Linked DNA regions of Homo sapiens. The protein of the gene in region 1 purifies or fractionates together with the protein of each later gene. This does not show direct contact. Each region holds a gene or a part of one and is shown in the gene's direction. Other genes may lie near its edges.

Evidence for each region.
Region 2: the proteins of ENTHD1 (region 1) and UACA purify together in Homo sapiens (affinity purification with mass spectrometry; one large-scale study listed by BioGRID and IntAct). This does not show direct contact.
Region 3: the proteins of ENTHD1 (region 1) and CEP250 purify together in Homo sapiens (affinity purification with mass spectrometry; one large-scale study listed by BioGRID and IntAct). This does not show direct contact.
Region 4: the proteins of ENTHD1 (region 1) and ZMYM6 purify together in Homo sapiens (affinity purification with mass spectrometry; one large-scale study listed by BioGRID and IntAct). This does not show direct contact.

What each region holds. Positions count from the first base shown.
Region 1 is NC_000022.11:39,886,756-39,891,780, reverse strand, and holds part of ENTHD1 (ENTH domain-containing protein 1), read left to right. Parts: intron 1-3,877; 5' UTR 3,878-4,032; coding exon 4,033-4,381; intron 4,382-5,025.
Region 2 is NC_000015.10:70,752,668-70,757,692, reverse strand, and holds part of UACA (uveal autoantigen with coiled-coil domains and ankyrin repeats), read left to right. Parts: intron 1-5,025. UniProt on the Homo sapiens protein: Regulates APAF1 expression and plays an important role in the regulation of stress-induced apoptosis. Promotes apoptosis by regulating three pathways, apoptosome up-regulation, LGALS3/galectin-3 down-regulation and NF-kappa-B inactivation.
Region 3 is NC_000020.11:35,457,964-35,462,988, forward strand, and holds part of CEP250 (centrosome-associated protein CEP250), read left to right. Parts: intron 1-340; 5' UTR 341-411; intron 412-2,019; 5' UTR 2,020-2,142; intron 2,143-4,301; 5' UTR 4,302-4,404; coding exon 4,405-4,590; intron 4,591-5,025. UniProt on the Homo sapiens protein: Plays an important role in centrosome cohesion during interphase. Recruits CCDC102B to the proximal ends of centrioles. Maintains centrosome cohesion by forming intercentriolar linkages.
Region 4 is NC_000001.11:35,014,055-35,019,079, reverse strand, and holds part of ZMYM6 (zinc finger MYM-type protein 6), read left to right. Parts: intron 1-3,917; coding exon 3,918-4,092; intron 4,093-4,191; coding exon 4,192-4,383; intron 4,384-5,025. UniProt on the Homo sapiens protein: Plays a role in the regulation of cell morphology and cytoskeletal organization.

The sequences.
Region 1 (5,025 bases):
TGGGCTTGGTGGCTCATGGCTGCAGTCCCAGCTACTTGGGAGGCTGAGGCAGGAGAATTGCTTGAACCTGGGAGGTGGAGGTTGCAATGAGCCAAGATCGTGCCACTTCACTCCAGCCTGGGTGACAGAGCAAGACCCTATCTCAAAAAAAAAAATAAAATTTTTTTTTTAATTAGTTAGGCTTGGTGGTATGCACCTGTAGTCCCAGCTACTTGGGAGGCTGAGGCAGGGGGATTGCTTGAGCCCAGGAGTTTGCAAGCAGCCTGGGCTACATAGTGAGGCTTTATCTCAAAAAAAAAAAAAAAGTGATTATAATTATAAAGCTATAGAATCAGTGCAGGTTTATCCCAAGGCAGAATCATTCAATCATTGTGTTATTTGCACAACACATGTTTCTTGAGTATCTACTGTTGCTAATTAGCTGTTAGGGATAGGATTACAGTGGTAAATAAGACCGTCAAGGTCCCTGCCCCCAAGGAGCTTCCAGTTTGGTGGTGAAGAAAGGCACTGAGCAAATGACAAATAGGTAAGTACAGATTGTTACAAGTGCAATGAAGGAAATTAACCAGGTTCTGGGGAGACCTAAGTAGTTAGTGAGGTCGGTGAAGACCTCTCAGATTTGTGACATGAAATACCTAACTTCTTCCCTCTATTTCTAAATATTATAGTGAGTTGGGTAGCCAGACAACCAAGATTCAAATGTGGAAATTTACCCTCTTGGGCACTAATTTTGTCTCATGTCAATTTTTGTCACATCACTGTAGTTACAATCTCACAGTTATTTGATGCTGTATGTAAACAGCATTTTCATGTAGTCAGGTGTCTAAAACACATAATAAACCAACATATAATTTACAACTAACACCAATTAATTGAGCTCCTTGTCAATTTGAAAAGACAGCAGTAGTAGAATGGTGTTTTACATATTCTACGTTCATATCACAAGGTAAAGTTCAAGTCATTGTACATTAGTAAGTGATAAGAATTCACTTCTCTAGACCTTTTTCCTTGCGATTTTTCTAATGGTTGGGGTTGTATTTAATTCTGATATGGTGTCATGTAAATTCATTTTAAACTACTCTATTGGATTAGAAGGCTATTATTTTGATATTTTTCTGGGTTAGAAAATTCATTTAAGAAAACAGTTTTTAAAAGTTTAAAATATAGGTTAGAGAATGTAGAAAAACCTAAAAATTACGATTGTTCTTCCAAAATATAGATAGATAGCTATCCAAAAAAGAAAAAAAAATTAACATTTGTTGTTCAATTCCAGCAAGTTATGATTCTAACAGGGCTTTAAAAGAAAATAGAATCGTGAAGAAACAGATCGATATTTGTTGCTCTAAGCCAATGTCATAGTGCATCTCTGCATTGAGTGAGTTTGGTAGAAGGAAAAAAAGGACAATAGAAAAAAAAACCCTCCTGCTTGACAATTTTAATAGCTTTGCTGAAATATTATAAATCAGTTTTTCACTGCAGGAAGGTGCCAAATAAAAATGACTGTGTTTGAAGTACGAAAAAGAGAAAATCAGAAAGTTGTAGAAACACAACTTCTCTTTTTCTTCCTAGGGTTAATGATAGTGTCTTTCTGAGAAATCTTAATTAAACAGATATTTAATACATTTTCTTTTTTATTTATTTATTTATTTATTTATTTATTTATTTATTTATTTATTTATTTTTGAGACAGAGTCTCACTCTATCTCCCAGGCTATAGCGCAGTGGCCTAATCTCGGCTCAGTGCAACCTCTGCCTCCCAGGTTCCAGTGATTCTTATGCCTCAGTCTCCCAAGTAGCTGGGATTACAGGTGTGTGCCACCAAGCCTGGCTAATTTTTTGTGTTTTTAGTAGAGATAGGGTTTCACCATGTTGTCCAGGCTGGTGTTGAACTCCTGAGCTCAGGTGATCTGCCCGCGGCAGCCTCCCAAAGTGCTAGGATTACAGGTGTGAGCCACCACGCCCAACCACTTATACAGGTACATTTTCTGTCTTGCTTAGTTAAGAGTGTGTTGTATTTTTACCAAAAAGAGGTTATCTCATTTTTTTAAAAAAAAGAAGTGATAGTTTATTTGGGATGCTTCTAAAAATTTATGTCTTCCTTTAATACACATACAGAAATTAATCAAGGCTGAGCTAGTTACCTGAGAAGGTCAAGAAAGGGAAGCAAAACTAAAAGCAGTGAACACATTTGTTATGGATTTTAACATTTTTTCTTTTGTATGTGTGCAGTTTCTCTAGTAAAATCTGATTATAGATCTTCTAGGTTTCGTTGGGTCTGGATGTTCGTCAGGGCTTGAAATCAATTTGGTACACTGTCTTGGCAGCCAGCAGTGGTGAATCACTAGAGAAATTGCAAACTGACTGACCCTCCTTAATACAAAATAATGAAAAAGAGAAAGGGAATGGTTTCCTATAAACTGAATTGATCATTCACAAGCATTATGTAAAGTTTGGGGGCTGCATTTCCCTTTTAAGTTTTAGTATATGGGCCTCTCTGTGTGTCCTTGTTTTGAGATCTGATAGACACAGGCTGATCACTGCAGGATTTAGAGAAATCCTTGCATTATTTGAGTCTTACTGTTGACACTGTTTAATCCTAAACTCATTCTTCTTTTTCCAAAGGTGAACAAATAAAGTAATTTAACCTTTCCCTCTAATTTACCAGGCTTATCTGGACTAAAATAGAGGTTTTAGGGTACCATGAATTAGCTGTGGAGTCCACTGATATACAGCTGTTTGTCTTCATAGTTGATCCTCCTTTCTTTTAGGTTTAGCAAGAAAGCAGACTATATTTAGATCTGATTCTCGGGACTTGTAGTTCTAAAAAGAATACAGTCATAGGGTCAGTGGGTGATTCTAAGACTCAATTTTACCCCCATTTTAATTACTCTCAGAATATAATATTTTTATATGTGACAATATAAAGAGATGCCTGAAATCCTAGCACTTCAGAAGGCTGAAGTGGGAGGATCACTTGAGGCCAGGAATTTTTGAACAGCCTGTGCAACATATTGAGACCCCCATCTCTACACAATATTTAAAAATTAGCCAGGCAGGCCGGAAGCGGTGGCTCACGGCTATAATCCCAGCACTTTGGGAGGCTGAGGTGGAAGGATCACAAGGTCAGGAGTTTGAGACCAGCCTCGCCAACATGGTGAAACCCCGTCTCTACTAAAAATACAAAAATTAGCCAGGTGTGGTGGCGTGCATCTGTAATCCCAGCTACTCAGGAGGCTGAGGCAGGATAATCGCTTGAACCCGGGTGGCAGAGGTTGCAGTGAGCCAAGATCGCACCACTGCACTCCAGCCTGGGCAACAGAGGGAGACTCTATCTCCAAAAAAAAAAATAGCCAGGCATGGTGGCGCACACCTATAGTTCCAGCTGCTTGGGAGGCGGAGGCAGGAGAATTGCATGAACCTAGGAGTTCAAGGCTGCAGTGAGCTATGATTGCACCACTGTACTTCAGCCTGGGAAGCAGGGCAATACCCTGTCTTTGGAAAAAAAAAAAAAAAAAAAAAAGAAAGAAAGAAAGAAAGAGATGTCAGAGTGCAAGTTCTGTTTTTTAAAATGTTGCTTGTCTGCTGTCCATGTAATGCTTTATAGCCATTATATTTCTGGCCAAAGAGGTTGAATGATATTTTCTCCAGGAACTTTTATGACTAGAAAGACAACCTATATTTCTTTAAATAATATAGGCCAATTTCTCATGAGGGATTTTCCCATGCCTATCCTAGGAACAGTTATATGGTACCCTCAATTCTGGCTGCTGTAAGTGAGGGGCTGATTTAGAAACAAAACCTAGATTTTCAGATTGATTTGGTCTTCTATAGACTTAAAAAAAAGTTTAATGTAAATTTTTTTGTGCTTTCCTTGCAGGAAATTGATACTTTATCAACATAGAGATTAATTATTTGTATTTGGGAGCAGCAGAACTGGGGACCAATTACCTGTCAAGAGTTTTATAAACCCGTGACATAAACTGTTATTCCATTGCTTTCATCCTCCATCTCACCTTGGAACTTGTATTACTTATGGCGTTCAGGAGACAAGTGAAAAACTTTGTGAAAAATTACTCAGATGCTGAAATAAAAGTCAGGGAAGCAACTTCTAACGACCCTTGGGGTCCCTCTAGTTCTCTGATGTTAGATATCAGTGACTTGACTTTCAACACAATTTCTCTCTCAGAGATTATGAATATGCTGTGGCACAGACTCAATGACCATGGGAAGAACTGGCGCCACGTGTATAAATCCCTTACCCTAATGGATTATCTCATCAAGAATGGATCAAAGAAAGTTATTCAGCATTGCAGAGAGGGGTTCTGTAACCTTCAAACACTAAAAGATTTTCAGCACATAGATGAAGCTGGAAAAGACCAAGGTAATGGTTAAAGAAGTTTATATAAGCTGGGTGTGGTGGTGTACACCGGTAATCCTGGTGCATGGGAGGCTGAGGTGGGAGGACTGCATGAGCCCAGGCATTTGATGCTGTAGTGAGGAAAGATTGCACCTGTGAATAGCCACTGTACTCCGGCCTGGGCAACATAGAGAGACCCCGATCTCTAAAGTTTTTTTAAAAAGTTTATAGCATGTGCCAATAAAGATTAGGAGTTTTGGGGGATCATTTTATACCAGGAGGTGGGGAAGAGTTGTACTTAAATGTACTAGCTGTCTTTCCTCTGGGACGGTTATAGTTTCCAATTTAATCCTCTGTATTGAGTCTTCAGTGCCTTAGAGAACAATACTTTTTTCAAAAGGAAAAAAAAAGTGAACACACTTAGGTTTCTGATAAAATGATACCTCATAGAAAATGAAAAAAGTGAATAAAATAGGAGGCATGGCAATTTGGTGTAATAATGTCACTGTAATTTATAATTATAATTAAACTGGAATTTAGTCATAAATTAAGGAAATATTTCCACAGGCTGGAATCTTCAAAGACTATCTAGATGGAAGCAGTTATATGAATACAAAAATTTAGATCATAAAATAATTCTTTCGGGGGCGGAAGAGGAGGTGCAGTAG
Region 2 (5,025 bases), on another chromosome or scaffold:
ACTTTTGGAGGATGCTAGGAAAGTGATGCATTCTTTCAAGATCAGGAAAATAAAGGGAAATAATAAAACATTTATTGTGCATTTCCTGTGAGAACTGTATCTCAAGGTAGCCAAATAGCTGATAAGAGGAAGTGTCTGTTTTAGTTATACTTTACTGCCACTAATAGATGAAGAAGGGATGATGTAATTAGTATATCATGTATTCTGTCCCAGCTAATATATGAAGAAGGGGTGATAGAGTTAGTATATCATAACTTTACAGCTCCTAATGAATTAATGAATCTAGAGTCTATAGACATGATTGTCAGAGGCTACTAATGTCTCAAAAAGAAAGACAAGCTGGCATAATATATCTTGTGGTGGAAATACTTATTACCACCTATTAATAGTCTTGCCAAAATAATCACCCTTTAGCTATAACCATGATTTTGTTTATTGTCATACAATAATTTTGATTATTGTCATACAGGGAACAAAGGAAGATAGGGATGCAATCAGCAAAATTCTGATTGTGGAAATCTATGGAAAAATGAAATGGTTTCTTAAAAATTATAAATTGTAAGAAAAGGAAAAAGAGGAGAAACCTATGGATTACAAGAGATTTAAGAGATTAAAATGCATACTAGCCAATTGCCGTGATGGACTTTATTTAGATCCTGATTAACTACTTGTAAAAAGTAAAAGTTTATGAAACAATCGAGGAAATATAATCATCAGCTGGATACTTGATGATATCGAATTATTTGAAACATTTAAATGTGACAGTGGTAGTAATGTGGCTGTGTTTATAAAGAGTCTTTATCCTTCATTTTATTTTTTGGAGATGAAGTCTCACTCTGTTGCCCCAGCTGGAGTGCAGTGGTGTGATCTCTGCTCACTGCAACCTCCGCCTCCCGGGTTCAAGTGATTCTCCTGGCTCAGCCTACCGAGTAGTTGGGATTACAGCTGCCCGCCACCATGCCTGGCTAATTTTTGTATTTTTGGTAGAGACAGGGTTTTGCCATGTTGGCCAGGCTGGTGTTGAACTCCTGACCTCAGGTGATCCACCTGCCTTGGCCTCCCAACGTGCTGGGATTACAGGCATGAGCCACCTCGCCCAGCTGAGTCTTTATCTTTCAAAGAAATATTTTGGAGTCTGGGATTTCCTTCAAAATAATCTTTGGGTGGGTGGGGATAGTAAGTTGGGGGTATAGTTGCAATAGGATTGGTCTTGAGTTAGTAACTGCATTTGGGGCTGGGTACAGTGGCTCATGCCTGTAATCTCAGCACTTTGGGAGGCCGAGGTGGGCAGATCGCTTGAGGTCAGGAGTTCGAGACCAGCCTGGCCAACATGGTAAAACCTTGTCTCTACTAAAAGTACAAAAATTAGCTGGGCATGGTCATTTGTAGTCTCAGCTACTAGGGAGGCTGAGGCAGGAGAATTGCTTGAACCTGGGAGGCGGAGGTTGCAGTGAGCTGAGATCATGCCATTGCACTCCAGCCTGGGCAACAGAGCAAGACTCCATCAAAAAAAAAAAAATTGCGGCTGGGTGGTTCATGATGCTTATTCACTTTTGTGATACTGTTGTATTTAGCGTATGTCCTAAAATTTCTGTACTGTAATTAGAAAGAGCTAGTCACAGCCTTCAAGAATTTTAAGAGCTAGATATAAAAAATAAATGAATATGGCATGTTAACAGTTATTATAGAAGTCGGTATAAATTGCTGTGGGGGCACATAGAGTGTAGAGTGAGCCCATAAAAAGGTTGAAAGGTAGAGTGTGAGCTTGGGCCAGAAAGACAATTTCAGTGGCTTTCCAAGCAAAAGAAGAGCAAATGCAGTGGTATGGAGCTGTGAAATTATACAGCTGAGGGAGCATCAGATTTGGAAACTAATTCTGGTTTTATGGTAGAGGATGGCACAGATGAGGCATAGACAAATCTTCAAATAAGAATTCTATTGAAAATAGGGAGTTAGAGGGCGTGCAGCTTGGGGATTGTGGTAAAGGAAGGTTTTCATTCATTCTTTTTTTTTTTTATTTTTGAGAATAAGTCTCCCTCTTGTCGCTCAGGCTGGAGTGCAGTGGCGCAATCTTGGCCCACTGCAACCTCTGCCTCTCGGGTTCAAGAGATTCTCTTGCCTCAGCCTCCCGAGTAGCTGGTACTACAGGCTCCTGTCACCATGCCTGGCTAAGTTTTGTGTTTTTAGTAGAGATGGGGTTTCACCATGTTTGCCAGGCTGGTCTTGTACTCCTGACCTCGGGCGATCCACCCACCTCGGCCTCCCTAATTGTTGAGATTATAGGCGTGAGCCACTGCCCCCGGCCTCATTCTTTTTTTTTTTTAAACCTTGAATTAAAATTTAAATTACTTGACAAGTTTAGATCACTGTTCAGAGAGAACTGACTAGTCATGAAAGTTTCATCTTCAGAAATTATCCTATTAGTGAGTTTATAAGTTCATCTTTCTGCTTCTCCCTTCCTCTCTAGAATTAGCTAATAGCCAGCAAAATTTTGATTTTATCAGCCCTGTTTAACTTATGTTTGTATCTTTGGTAAACTAGATCCAAGAATAATAGATTTGAACGTTATAACATGTATTGTTTCATCACTATCATATGGAAACTTTTACTGTCCTGTTACAGTTTTGCAAATGTTTGTCCTGCCACCTAAAGGATACAGCATATTATTGAAATTTCCACCTGCACGTGCTTATTTATGCAAAGGAAGTCAAATTGATTTCTGTGGGGAATTTGCCTAAAAATGGATGGTTGAAATGTGCTGCCTGAAATTATAAATGGAACAATAGGATATAATACTCATTGCCTTATTTTCCTTAATCATAATACAATTAAAAGCTTTATATAGCTTTTATATCATTAGAAAAGATAATGTCTCTTCCAGGCTTAAAAATGTAGCCCCAAAACACAAGAATAAATTGGATTGTTTGTAGTCACACAAACAGTTTTGTCTGTTGGCTTTGTTTTATTGTCAGAAATCCTAAATATTGTTGACATTGACTTATTTTCAAATGATACAGTCTCCAAGATGATATGCAGAAGATGAACTGATGTAGCTGAGTGACCAAAGGCACTGGCAAAGGATCGATGAGTTGTATTTTTATACAGATGCTCCTTGACTTATTATGGGGTTATGTCTTGGTAAACCCAGTTTAAGTTGAAAATATTGTAAGTCGAAATGCATTTAAGACACCTAACCTACACAACATCATAGCTTAGCCTAACCTTCTTTAAACATGCTCAGAACACTTAGCCTCCAGTTGGGCAAAATCATCTAACACAAAGCCTATTTTATAAGAAAGTATTGAATATCTCATGAATTCAATACCGAATACTCTATTGAAAGTGAAAAAACAGAATAGTTGTACGGGTACTCAAAGTACATACAGTTTCTGCTGAATGCATGTAGCTTTTGTACTGTTGTAAAGTCAAAAAATCCTAAGTCTAACCATCATAAGTTGGGGACTGTCTGTAATTGAATGGGACCTGGCCAGGTATCCTTGAGAGAGCGCAGGTGAATGTCTCAACCAGTTAGGATAAATGACTGTCCCACAAAAGTCATACATGTTCATTGTAGAAAACCAAATATAGGCTGGGCGTAGTGGCTCACGCCTGTAATCCCAACACTTTGGAAGGCCGAGGTGGGCGGATCACTTGAGGTCAGGAGTTCGAAACCAGCCTGGGCAACATGATGAAACCCTGTCTCCACTAAAAATACAAAAATTAGCCAGGCATGGTGGTGGGCACCTGTAGTCTCAGCTACTCGGGAGGCTGAGGCAGGACAATGGCGTGAACCTGGGAGGCGGAATTTGCATTGAGCCGAGATCGCGCCACTGCACTCCAGCCTGGGCGATGGAGCGAGGCTCTGTCTCAACAGCAACAAAAAAAATTATAAGTAATTTGAAATTATTTGAGCACATACAAATGTCCCAATTAGAAGTACTCAGTAAATGCTAGTGAGTTACTTAGAAAGAAACTGCTTGTGAGAAATCCATGTGCTGATAGCCAAGATTTATTGAGCATGTATTTCCCAGGCATTGTTCTAAGTGCTAGTAACTCAATCCTCACCGCAACCCTAAGAAGTAGGTACTATTGCCATCATTTCAGATGCAAGTTAAATAATTTACCTGCCCAAGACACTATAGCTAATAAGTGAAGAGTTAGGTAGCCTGGCTTTGGAACCCATGTCCTTACCATTGTGAACTGATGTTTCAAATTTAATGCTATGGGATTTACACCTTAAGCCATATATACAAAAAAATTGGAGAAGGGGAGAGAGGAGGCATTTTATGGGAAATTCCAAAACCAATCTGTGTTCCCTCCAGAGATATGTGGAATTGTTGCATTCCTGATATCCTTCCAATAATAGATTCTGTTATTTAAAACATTTTTAAATGTGATAGAAAAAAATAGTTTGGCTTAATCCATGTTTTTGATTTCCAGGGAGGGTGAACATATTTCTGTGCTTATTGGCTGCGTTCATTTCTTGTTTTAGGAATTGTTCATTTTCTTTGACCATTTTTTCTGCTGATGCCCTGTTCATGTTGATCTGTAAGAGCTTTATACGTCCTTATTTTTGCTACTTGGCCAGCCGTCGCTTTAGAGTAATGTCTGTCTCACTATAGCTGTGCTTCTGTTACCTTCCCTGATATTTAAAACAGTTTTTGTTTCATGTATTTAATTTTGTGATAATTGATACATTAAGGTTCTTGGCTATTTTATATTCATTGTAGAGTGTAACTTGTCGTATAAAAGCCTCTAATTTGTTGCATTATAACTTTTGTTTTGAATTCTACATTGTTAGATATTAATACTGTCACACTGCCCCTTCTGTCATTTTGCTTTGTATGCATGTATACTTACCCAGTATATTATACTGTCATCCTTGGTTTTATTTGGAGGGGTGTGTGTGTGTGTATCTACAACTGTGTACACTTTTGAGGAGATGATGCGTTTTTAATATTGACCATATTTATATATTGTCAAGGTTTTTTATATTACCTCTGTAGTAAGGTTTTCCCTTGCAGA
Region 3 (5,025 bases), on another chromosome or scaffold:
GCCCCACATGAGATTTAAATAAGGAGCTGCATGCTAATTTGTTTTTTTCAGGAGTAAGAAACAAATTATGTCTGTACACAAATGTCTATACTGTAGTTTCTTTCTCAGTAAATAAAATGTTTGTGTCCTCAAGTATTTTTCTGTTTTTGCTTTAAGTGACAAATTCTATTTAATACCATTCTGCATCTTAGTCCTTGTAGCATTTATGCCTCTATTCCAAGTTTAGGTGGTAGTGTTGCTTCTCTTTTAAACTTTATTTAAATACTCCTTTTGTAGTATTTTGGATGAGAGAGGATCAAATACATAATTTATCTCACTCTTCTGTCACTTTCCACTCCAGGTTCACAGGTGGCTGTTGGTCTTTAGTAAGGGTGCTGTCTTCCCTGTCTGATCCTTAGCAAAAGTAGGAAGGTAGGTCTTGTTCATTTCTGTACCACTGTGGCAGACTCCTGATACTGAGTTGAAATTCATGAGTGTTTATGGGATAAATTAATGTACAAAAGAAATGAATCTTTCCCTTTTTCCTGCAGTAATGATAACATTGGCTCAGTGGTTTACAGCTTAGAAGTACACTGACACTCATTATCTTATTTAGATGTAATCCAATTTGTTAGTTTGCCAGCTACTGCTCTTTTCCCTTTCTCAGGCACATTGAAATTTACTTTCCCTTTGGGGGCTCTGCTAGTTTATTCCTAGCAGATCTGATCTGGCAGTGTGTTTGTAAAAGGATGCTGAACTGTGTCTTGAGGAAGCTCAGAATGAAATCTGAATTTCAGAAAGATTCCTGAGATAATTTTTCTCTGTCTCTTCTCTTTTATTCTTGTTTTAATAAATTTTAGTTTTATGAGGATTGTTTTGGTTTTAAAAAACTTTAAATCATTTTTTAAAACTATTTTTTACAACAATTTTAGGGTTACAGAAAAATTGCATAGTACAGAGAGTTCCTGTATACCTTGCACCCAGTCTCCCCTTTTAGTATGGTATATTTGCTATAATGCAAATCTTTTTTTTTTTTTTTTTTTTTTTTTTTTGAGATGGAGCCTTGCTCTTGTCGCCCAGGCTGGACAGTGTTGGCCAGGCTGGTCTCGAACTCCTGACCTCAAGTGATCCGCCTGCCTCAGCCTCCCAAAGTGCTGGGATTACAGGTGTGAGCCACTGTGCCTGGCCATGCAAATCATTTTTTGAGATAAGTGGGGCATATAAAAATATAAACAAAATGAAGTTGCTTTATCTCTACAAGCCTCAGTTTCCTTATCTGCAAGATGAGGGGGGTGGACTAAATTTCTAAATAGCTTTAAAATTTTTTAATTATCTGCTAAAGTAAAATAATTATATAATTGTAATATAATTTTCTTTATTTGCTTAAGTATTACTAATACCACCTTGCCAAATCATGTTTGCAAGTTACTGACAGCCATATCCTAAAAGAAAACTTAATGAGAATTCATGGAACTATGTGTGGCAGGACTGCTTATTAGAGATATTAGGTTGAATGATGTGAAATTGCCATTTTTGTAGATAAAAAGTAATGAGTGAGGCTGGGCTTGGTGGCTCACACCTATAATGCCATTGCTTTGGGAGGCTTGGACCAGGGGGTGGCTGTCTGAAACCAGGAGTTCGAGACAAGCTTAGGCAACATGGCAAAACCTTGTCTCTACCAAAGAAAAAAAAAAAAAGCCTCGGTGGCACACATCTTCAGCTCCTCTGAAGGGTGAGGCTGGAGGATCCCTTCAGCCCAGGAATTTGAGGCTGCGGTGAGCTATGATTGCACCACTGTACTCCAGCCTGGGTGACAGAGCTAGATCCTTTCTCTAAAAATAATAATAATAATAGGATAATATTAGCAATTTCATATGGTTCAACCTAATGTTTTGGGATAGGGATTCAACAAAGTGTGAGGGGGCCTTTGAGACCTCATAAACTCCCACTGCATGCAAAAGCCCGGCTCAGCCCTCACCATACTAGGAGAGAAAAGGCTCCTCAGTTCCCTTGGAGTAACTTGGATCTACATTATTGTAGGTAGAGTTGTTGGCAGAAATCCTGGGATAAGAGAATAGTTTCCTGGAAGATCTGTGCCTCCAACCAGCAGAGAGGGATTGAGCTTCATTGAACTCAACAGAGCCAACATTTCATAGCACCATGGTGAGTTGGTCACACAGCCTTGGCAAAAAGGCTGAAAAGGAGGGTGTAATAGTATGGGGAAAGGTTGTATTCCCCTGGTTCGTAGGCTAGGAAGAGGCCTGGAGTACTGGTGCCACCAAACCTTTATTGGTGCCATTCTATTCTCCCTACTTTATGCACTTTCCTTACTGCCTAGTACAGGCTCTGCAAACTCAAGTATCTTCGGTTGTTCAGGAGGTAATGTAAATTAGTAAGCCGAGTTTTCCTCTTTAATGCTACTATAACAGAAACAATAGCACAGTTGCAATGATAAATGACAACTGAAATATGCTATCATTGTGAGGGAGAGAATCGGTGTGTGCATAGGGGAGGCCATGATGAACTGGAGAGCACATGCCCTGTCTAAAGGGGGCAGGCACTATACAACTGTGCAGAGCACACGCCCTGTCTAAAGGAGACAGGCGCTGTTCAACTGCACGGAGCGCGTGCCCTGTCTAAACGGGCAGGCACTATTCAACTGTGCAGCTGGTTGTTGCCTTATTGAAATATGGGTCAAGCATCACTGGGTATTCTGATTTTCCAAAGGAGCCAGAAATATGGATTTTATGTACATTCTCCCAATGATAAATGTTGGCACCTAATTTGAATTCTTAAAAACTATTATGTGGGCCACACAATGGCTGAAAAGAGCTAGCAGGGCACTGATTTGTCATCTCTGGCTTATGGCTTAGCTCTGCCAGGAGTGAGGCTCACATGCATTTCTTCACTGGACATTGTTGACAAGTTACAATTAAAATGAATTAGACAGCTCCTGCCTTTGAGGTACTCATGGATTAGCAGAGAAAATAGACAAGTAATGATGATAAGATGTAGAGTAGACATCAGAACATATGTATTCTCTCTGTGTATATAGCTATAAAAGTGACTAACTCTTCCTGGGTTCATCTGGGAGGACATGATAGGACGTGGCATTTGAGCCAGGATGTGGGAAATCAATAGTTTGGTGCATTAAAGGGATTTGGGGCCCTTGAAATTTCTACTGTATGTGCAAATGTTAGGTTTGCATTCGCTGTATATACCATTTTGTTGATAGGTAGTTGAAAATACGGATATTCCTTAGCCCTGCTGGTGAGAGTCTTAGGGTTAATAAAATGAGAGAACTCTTCCTCTGGCCCAGGTTATGGGATAATTGTGTGTTTTAGAGGCCTAAGTAACTCAGAGGTCATGATACCCTCATTTCTGGATGAGGGAAGTAGCACATCTGAGGTCACAGAGCCCATTGGAGGCAGAGCTTGGACTAACACCCAGAACTCTTTACCACCATGCCTTCCCCTGTCCTGGGTATCTCTGATGAAGGTCACCGTTAGGCTGGCCGCCTCTGCCTGTGGTGGCCCATTGCCCTGTTTTGGCCCAGCTCCTGGTGGGTGAGGGGGTTTGGCCATCCTGCTGCCACTGGTTCCTTCTCTCTTTTGGATCCTTTGCCTGAAATGCCTGCTACCCCTTTTCTTTGTCAGATAGACTACTTGTGTTCAAATCTCTCTCAACCATATGCCAGCTGTGTGGCCTGGCACAAGTTTTTTAACCTTTCTAAGCCCCAGTTTCCTCATCTATATATAAAGAGTTATAATAGTACGTTTGGTGAAGTGTAATGAGAAGGCATTGGAAGGTTTCAAGATTTTTGTAAAAACAAAATGACGTAATGCATGTAAAGCACTTAAAGCAACAGCCCTCCAGAAGCACTCAGCAAGTGTTAACAATGATGATGATGATTCACACAGTTCACAGGCTCCCAGGCTGGGTTCTCTTCCTTTGTTTTCTCATATTATCTTATTATTTCACATGCTACATTGTATGTATTGTAATAGTTTGTGTCTATTTCCCCTGCTAGACTAAGAACACCTTCAGCGATTCATTCAACAAATGTTTCTGAACCACTGTGCCAGGAACTAAGGATGCAGTGATAAACCAGGAGCTCTTGGTTTAGTGCAGAGTTCCAAAAGTCATGCCAGGAGACACTAGTCCTGTGAGCTTGTCTCATGGTCAGTTAAATTTGGGGAATGATGCTCATCATAGCGCCCTTCAGAGATGAGGGTCCCTTTTAGTATTTTAAAGGTTCTGAGGAGTCTTGTGTGTAGTAAAAGAACAGTCCTTTCCATTTGACTATGTGCTTTGGTCCCCAGTTCAAGAGGAGGTTGAAGTGGCATGGCAATGGTTAGAGACCCTGCTGGGCGTGAACACCCTCTGGCTACCTAGGGACCTGTGGGCCTACCACCTGGTGCCCTCATGGAGACAAGAAGCCCTGGGTTGAACAACATGAAGCCCCAGTCACTGCAGCTGGTACTGGAAGAGCAGGTGCTGGCACTACAGCAGCAGATGGCAGAGAATCAGGCAGCCTCCTGGCGGAAGCTGAAGAACTCCCAGGAGGCCCAGCAGAGACAAGCAACCCTTGTGAGGAAGCTGCAGGCCAAGGTGAGGCAGCTGCCCTTTTGGGGAGGGGAAAGAGAACAACCCCCAGAGCTAGGTGCTGAGGTGAGATAAGGGTTGCAGGAGGCAGAGTCTTGTGGTGGGAGTGGCCTACATCTAGCATGGTGAGATAAGACCCAGACCTTCTAGCTTTCATGTACAGCTTCTCTTTTGATGCTCACAACTGCTCCATGAGGTACGTATTATATCCTTTTAATTTAATTTTATTTTTGAGATAGGGTTTTGCTCTGTTGCCCAGGCTAGAGTGCAGTGGTATGATCACAGATCGCTGCAGCCTCAACCTCCTGGGCTCAGGCAGTCCTCCTGCCTCAGCCTCTGGAGTATCTGGGACCACAGGTGTACACCACCACTTTTGGCTAATATATCTCTTTAAAGATGAAATTCACAAGGGTTAAGTTAATTATCCAGGTTTCTTCAGCT
Region 4 (5,025 bases), on another chromosome or scaffold:
ATTGTAGACACCCACCATTTAAATTTATTTAACAGTTATCTTGAAAGCTATTGGGTATAGCATAAAATAATATCACTCTTTTAATAGTATACAAAAGCTATTTAATTCTTTAAAAAGTAAAAACTCTACATGGTCGCAAAAATGTGTTTATTTCTAATGTCCTTGTGGGGTCATTGTTGCTTTACAATAATGCTTAGATGCAGAGAGAGGAAAAAACAGCAACAAAGTCACATAAATCTTTCCCTGACTTAGTACATTTGAAGGATTTGGCATATTTTGCCTATTTCTGTGGTAGTGTAATTTGAGGAATACAGTGTGTTGTTAATAGTCACTACAGGCAAAAAACAGTAAGAGCTTGCTTTTAAATTGTGGCTCTGTCATTTATCTCTGTGACTTCGGGCTAGATGTTTAACTTTCTAAGCCTCCATTTCTCATCAGTAAATAATAGTTGCTTCCTAGGACTTTAATGAGACAGTGTTAGCAAATGGCCTAGCACATAGCAAGTACTTAAAAAATGGAATCCTGTTATTATTAATAATAAAAATTATATCGTGCGATTATTTATAATTAACATAAATAAATATAATAAATATATGTGTATATAATACATATTACTATGTATACTTAACATATCACTTGTAGGCCCCTATTTTGTCTTTGGCTGTGTTTATCTGCTTTGTGTCTTGACTTAAACTATTTAAAAGTAGATCCTGCTATATGGAAATTTCCAAGTAAAGAGGAGAGAGGATTTTTTTTTTTCTTTGTTGCCCATGGTAGAGTGATCACAGCTCACTGCAGCCTTGAACTCCCCGGGCTCAGATGATCCTCCCACCTCAGCCTTTCAAATAGCTGGGACCACAGGCGCATACCACCATGCCCGACTAATTTTTGTATTTTTTTGTAGAGATGGTTTTGCTATGTTGCCCAGGCTGGTCTCAAACTCCTGGGCTCAAGCAATTAGCCTGCCTCAGCCTCCTAAAGTGCTGGGACTATTGGTGTGAGCCATCACATGTGGCCAGGAGAGAGGAATTTTAAAATATTTATATACTCTAAATTAGTTTGTTGCAAAATACCATTCTAATTAATGCTTTTATGTCATTCTCATGAAACTAATCTGAAAGAGTAAACTTAGTTTTCTATTTTTAGATATTGTTTCAACATACCAAATACCAAAATAAAATTAAATAATTTTAAAGAACATAACACAACTTATACATCCAAATGCCTATTGTTTTCTTAAAAGTAGTCACCCCCGTCAGTGACTTTTTAGCATAAGGTTAGGAGACAGATTCTTATCTTTTCAGCATGCATTTGATTTTTACAAATTTTCAAAGGCTGCTTGATACCTTAATCAGGCCAATATATTAGCTAATTAAATTAAGTCATACTGTTAAAACATGATATTTATAAAATTAAAAGTTAAAAAATAGTCTAAGGGTTTATCTTAAGTTTTATCTTAAAAAAATTAGAAAAATGTTTTGAGCTATGTTATTGTTGGAAGGTGTGGTTTTTCTACGGTAAATGTTACGATATAACACTCATTTGCATGTGTAAGGTTCAGAGTACACTTATAATTTATGTGCACAGATTTTCATTATAAAGTCATTCTCTTTGATTTACATATTTTTACTTGCTATTTTTGTACTTATTATGCCACTGGCAGATTCACCTTATTAAGTGAAACTCTTTATTGCTCTGTTTTCAGTAGAAAAATCACTTTTCAAAATTAATACTTCATCTGTGTATAAGCATATTCTTTTGGTTTCTAAGATTTGCTGTCATATTTTTAAAGTTGAGTTTTAAAGAATTAAAATAATTTTTGTTGTTGTTATTTTCTCATGGTTTACCATTGAATATACCTGTATAATAAAGGTGCAGGATGGGAGGCAGGATAGTGGAATAATTAATTCCATAGACTAGAATCAGATTGCCTGGATTAGTATTTCAGCTTTATTGCCTACTAGCAATATGACTTTGACAAGCTATTTAACCTCTCATTCAGTTTCCTCATCTGTAAAGTGGCAGTTACAGTAATACTTAACCTTATAGTGGTTTGGGGATTTTTTTTTTTTTTTGAGACACGGTCTCACTCTGTCACCCAGGCTGGAGTGCAGTGGCGTGATCCCAGCTCACTGCAGCCTCTACCTCCCGGGCTCAAGCAATCCTCCCACCTCAGCATCCTGAGTAACTGAGACCATGGGCATGAGCCAGCATGCCCTGCTAATTAAAAAATTTTTTTTATAGAGATCGGGTCTTGCTCTGTTGCCCAGGCTGGAGTGCAGTGGCATGATCATGGCTCACTGGAGTCTTGAACTCCCTGGGCTCAAGCAATCCTTCTGCCTTGGCCTTCCAAAGTGCTAGGATTATGGGGGTGAGCCACTGCACTCCATCATTTTTGTGGTATTTAAATTGGGTAATTTGAGTAAAGAGAATAATGCTTGGCACATAGTAATTACTCAACACACTTATTGTAGTATATATTATTGCCATTATTATTTACTTTGTGGCCTGCACTAGTGTTTATAATTAGTGACTATTTCCTTTAGTTTTTATACTTGTCAGAAGAATGGCAATACTTAACCTCTGTTTTACCAGGGTATTGCTATTTGTGCTTATTGCAATAATTAGCTCTTACAAATTGGCTCTAGGAGTCTCACAGAACCACCCAATTATTTTTGTTCTTCCTGTCTCGTTCTTGTTTCCATCTGTCCTCTGATACAAAGCCTTAACAGCCCTTTTGTCATATATCATGCTTATTTTTTGTCTTCTGTTAGCTCATTTGTTTCTCAAAATCTTGCACTTTTAATTTTTAAACATTCATTTATTGTCTTGGCTGGACACGGTGGCTTATGCCTGTAATCCCAACACTTTGGGAGGCTGACGCAGGCGGATCGCGAGGTCAGGAATTTGAGACCAGCGTGGCCAATATGGCGAAACCCCGTCTGTACTAAAAATACAAAAATTAGCCTGGCATGGTGGCACGTGCTGGTGTCCCAGCTACTCGAACCGGAGGCTGAGACAGGAGGATCGCTTGAACCCAGGAGGTGGAGATTGCAGTGAGCCGAGATCGTGACACTGCACTCCAGCCTGGGCAGCAGAGCGAGACTCCGTCTCACAAAAAAAAAAAAAAAAAAGAAAGAAAAAATTCATTTATTGTCTCATTTCAGTTCTACTTTGGGCAGCCTCTGGCTAATGAGAGAACCAGTGTCTTGTGGTCTGGAGTTGTGGGATGGACACTGGTCCCATTGGCTATAGCAGATGAAACTTGGTTGGGGCTGGAAGCCTTCCTATTTTTGTCTTCAGCATCTGGCTGGCCACATATATATATATATATATTTTTTTTTTTTTTTTTTTTTGAGATGGAGTCTAGCTCTGTTGCCAAGGCTGGGGTGCAGTGGCACAATCTCGGCTCACTGCAACCTCCACCTCCCGGGTTCAAGTGATTCTCCTGCCTCAGCCTCCCGAGTAGCTGGGATTACAGGCGCCCACCACCACGCCCATCTAGTTTTTGTATTTTTAGTAGAGACGAGGTTTCACCATGTTGGCCAGGCTGGTCTCGAACTCCTGACCTCATGATCCGCCCACCTCGGCCTCCCAAAGTGATGGGATTACATGCATGAACCACCGCACCTGGCCCTGGCTGGCTATATTTTAAATATAATTCACTCTTGACAAATTTATGAATTAGATATTATAAGCCCCATTTTATACATGAAGAAATTGAGATAGTAATTACATCATTCATTGTCACTCACCTGATAAATAGCAGAACTCATCAAACCCAGGTTTGCAGATTCCTTATCCTTTTTCTACCATACAGTACCTGCCCTTAGTAAGTGTTATTTCACCTCACAAAGAGGAGGAAGTTACAGTTGTGAAGAATACATTTCATTTTTACCTTTGTTATTTATTTTTAGAGACATTTTAAATCCTAAGGATGTGATCACAACTCGCTTTGAGAATTCCTATCCTAGCAAAGATTTCTGCAGCCAATCATGCTTGTCATCTTATGAGCTAAAGAAAAAACCTGTTGTTACCATATATACCAAAAGCATTTCAACTAAGTGCAGTATGTGTCAGAAGAATGCTGATGTAAGTTACATTTTACTTTTATTGGGATTCTGCTGAAAGAGATTTTTTTTTAACTGGCTCTGCTTATTTTGTGTGTGTATGTGTGTGTTTATTTCCTAGACTCGATTTGAAGTTAAATATCAAAATGTGGTACATGGTCTTTGTAGTGATGCCTGTTTTTCAAAATTTCACTCTACAAACAACCTCACCATGAACTGTTGTGAGAACTGTGGGAGCTATTGCTATAGTAGCTCTGGTCCTTGCCAATCCCAGAAGGTTTTTAGTTCAACAAGTGTCACGGCATACAAGCAGGTATGAATATCTATTTGTTGCATGTACTTAGGCCCACTCCTTCTGATTTGGCTGCACAGGGATGAACTACAAAATGAGAGTGAGCTCCTCCCATTAGTCCATCCTGATATGTGATTTCCCTTCCAGAAAATGGGATAGATTCTGATGGTGTGAGGGATGATTGTGGTGGTAAGTTGATATAGGTAAAATAGGTCCCTTTTTTAAGGCTCCCTTCATAGCTAAGAATTTACAAATGTGATTTCTTTTCTTTTTTTGAAATCGAGATAGGGTTTTGCCATGTTGCTCAGGCCGGTGTTGAACTCCTGAGCTCAAGCCATCCACTCGCCTCAGCCTCCCAAAGTGCCGGGATTACAGGCATGAGCAACCACACCTCGGCCTCATAAATGTAATTTCATGATTTTCTGTGAGCATGAAATATTTTGTGATGTATTGATAGCAAGAAAACCATATTATAAATAAACCATAAGCAAGAGTTAAGATGATAAAATCAGTGAATCTAAACAAAGCTTGTCTTTTTCATTTCAAAATGTGTTTGGGAATGAATTGTAATTATTTGGTCAACACTGTCTCATGAGAATACTTCAAGTAATTTTATTTATTGTAATGAATAATGGATTAAGCCGGTTACTAAATATTATCACC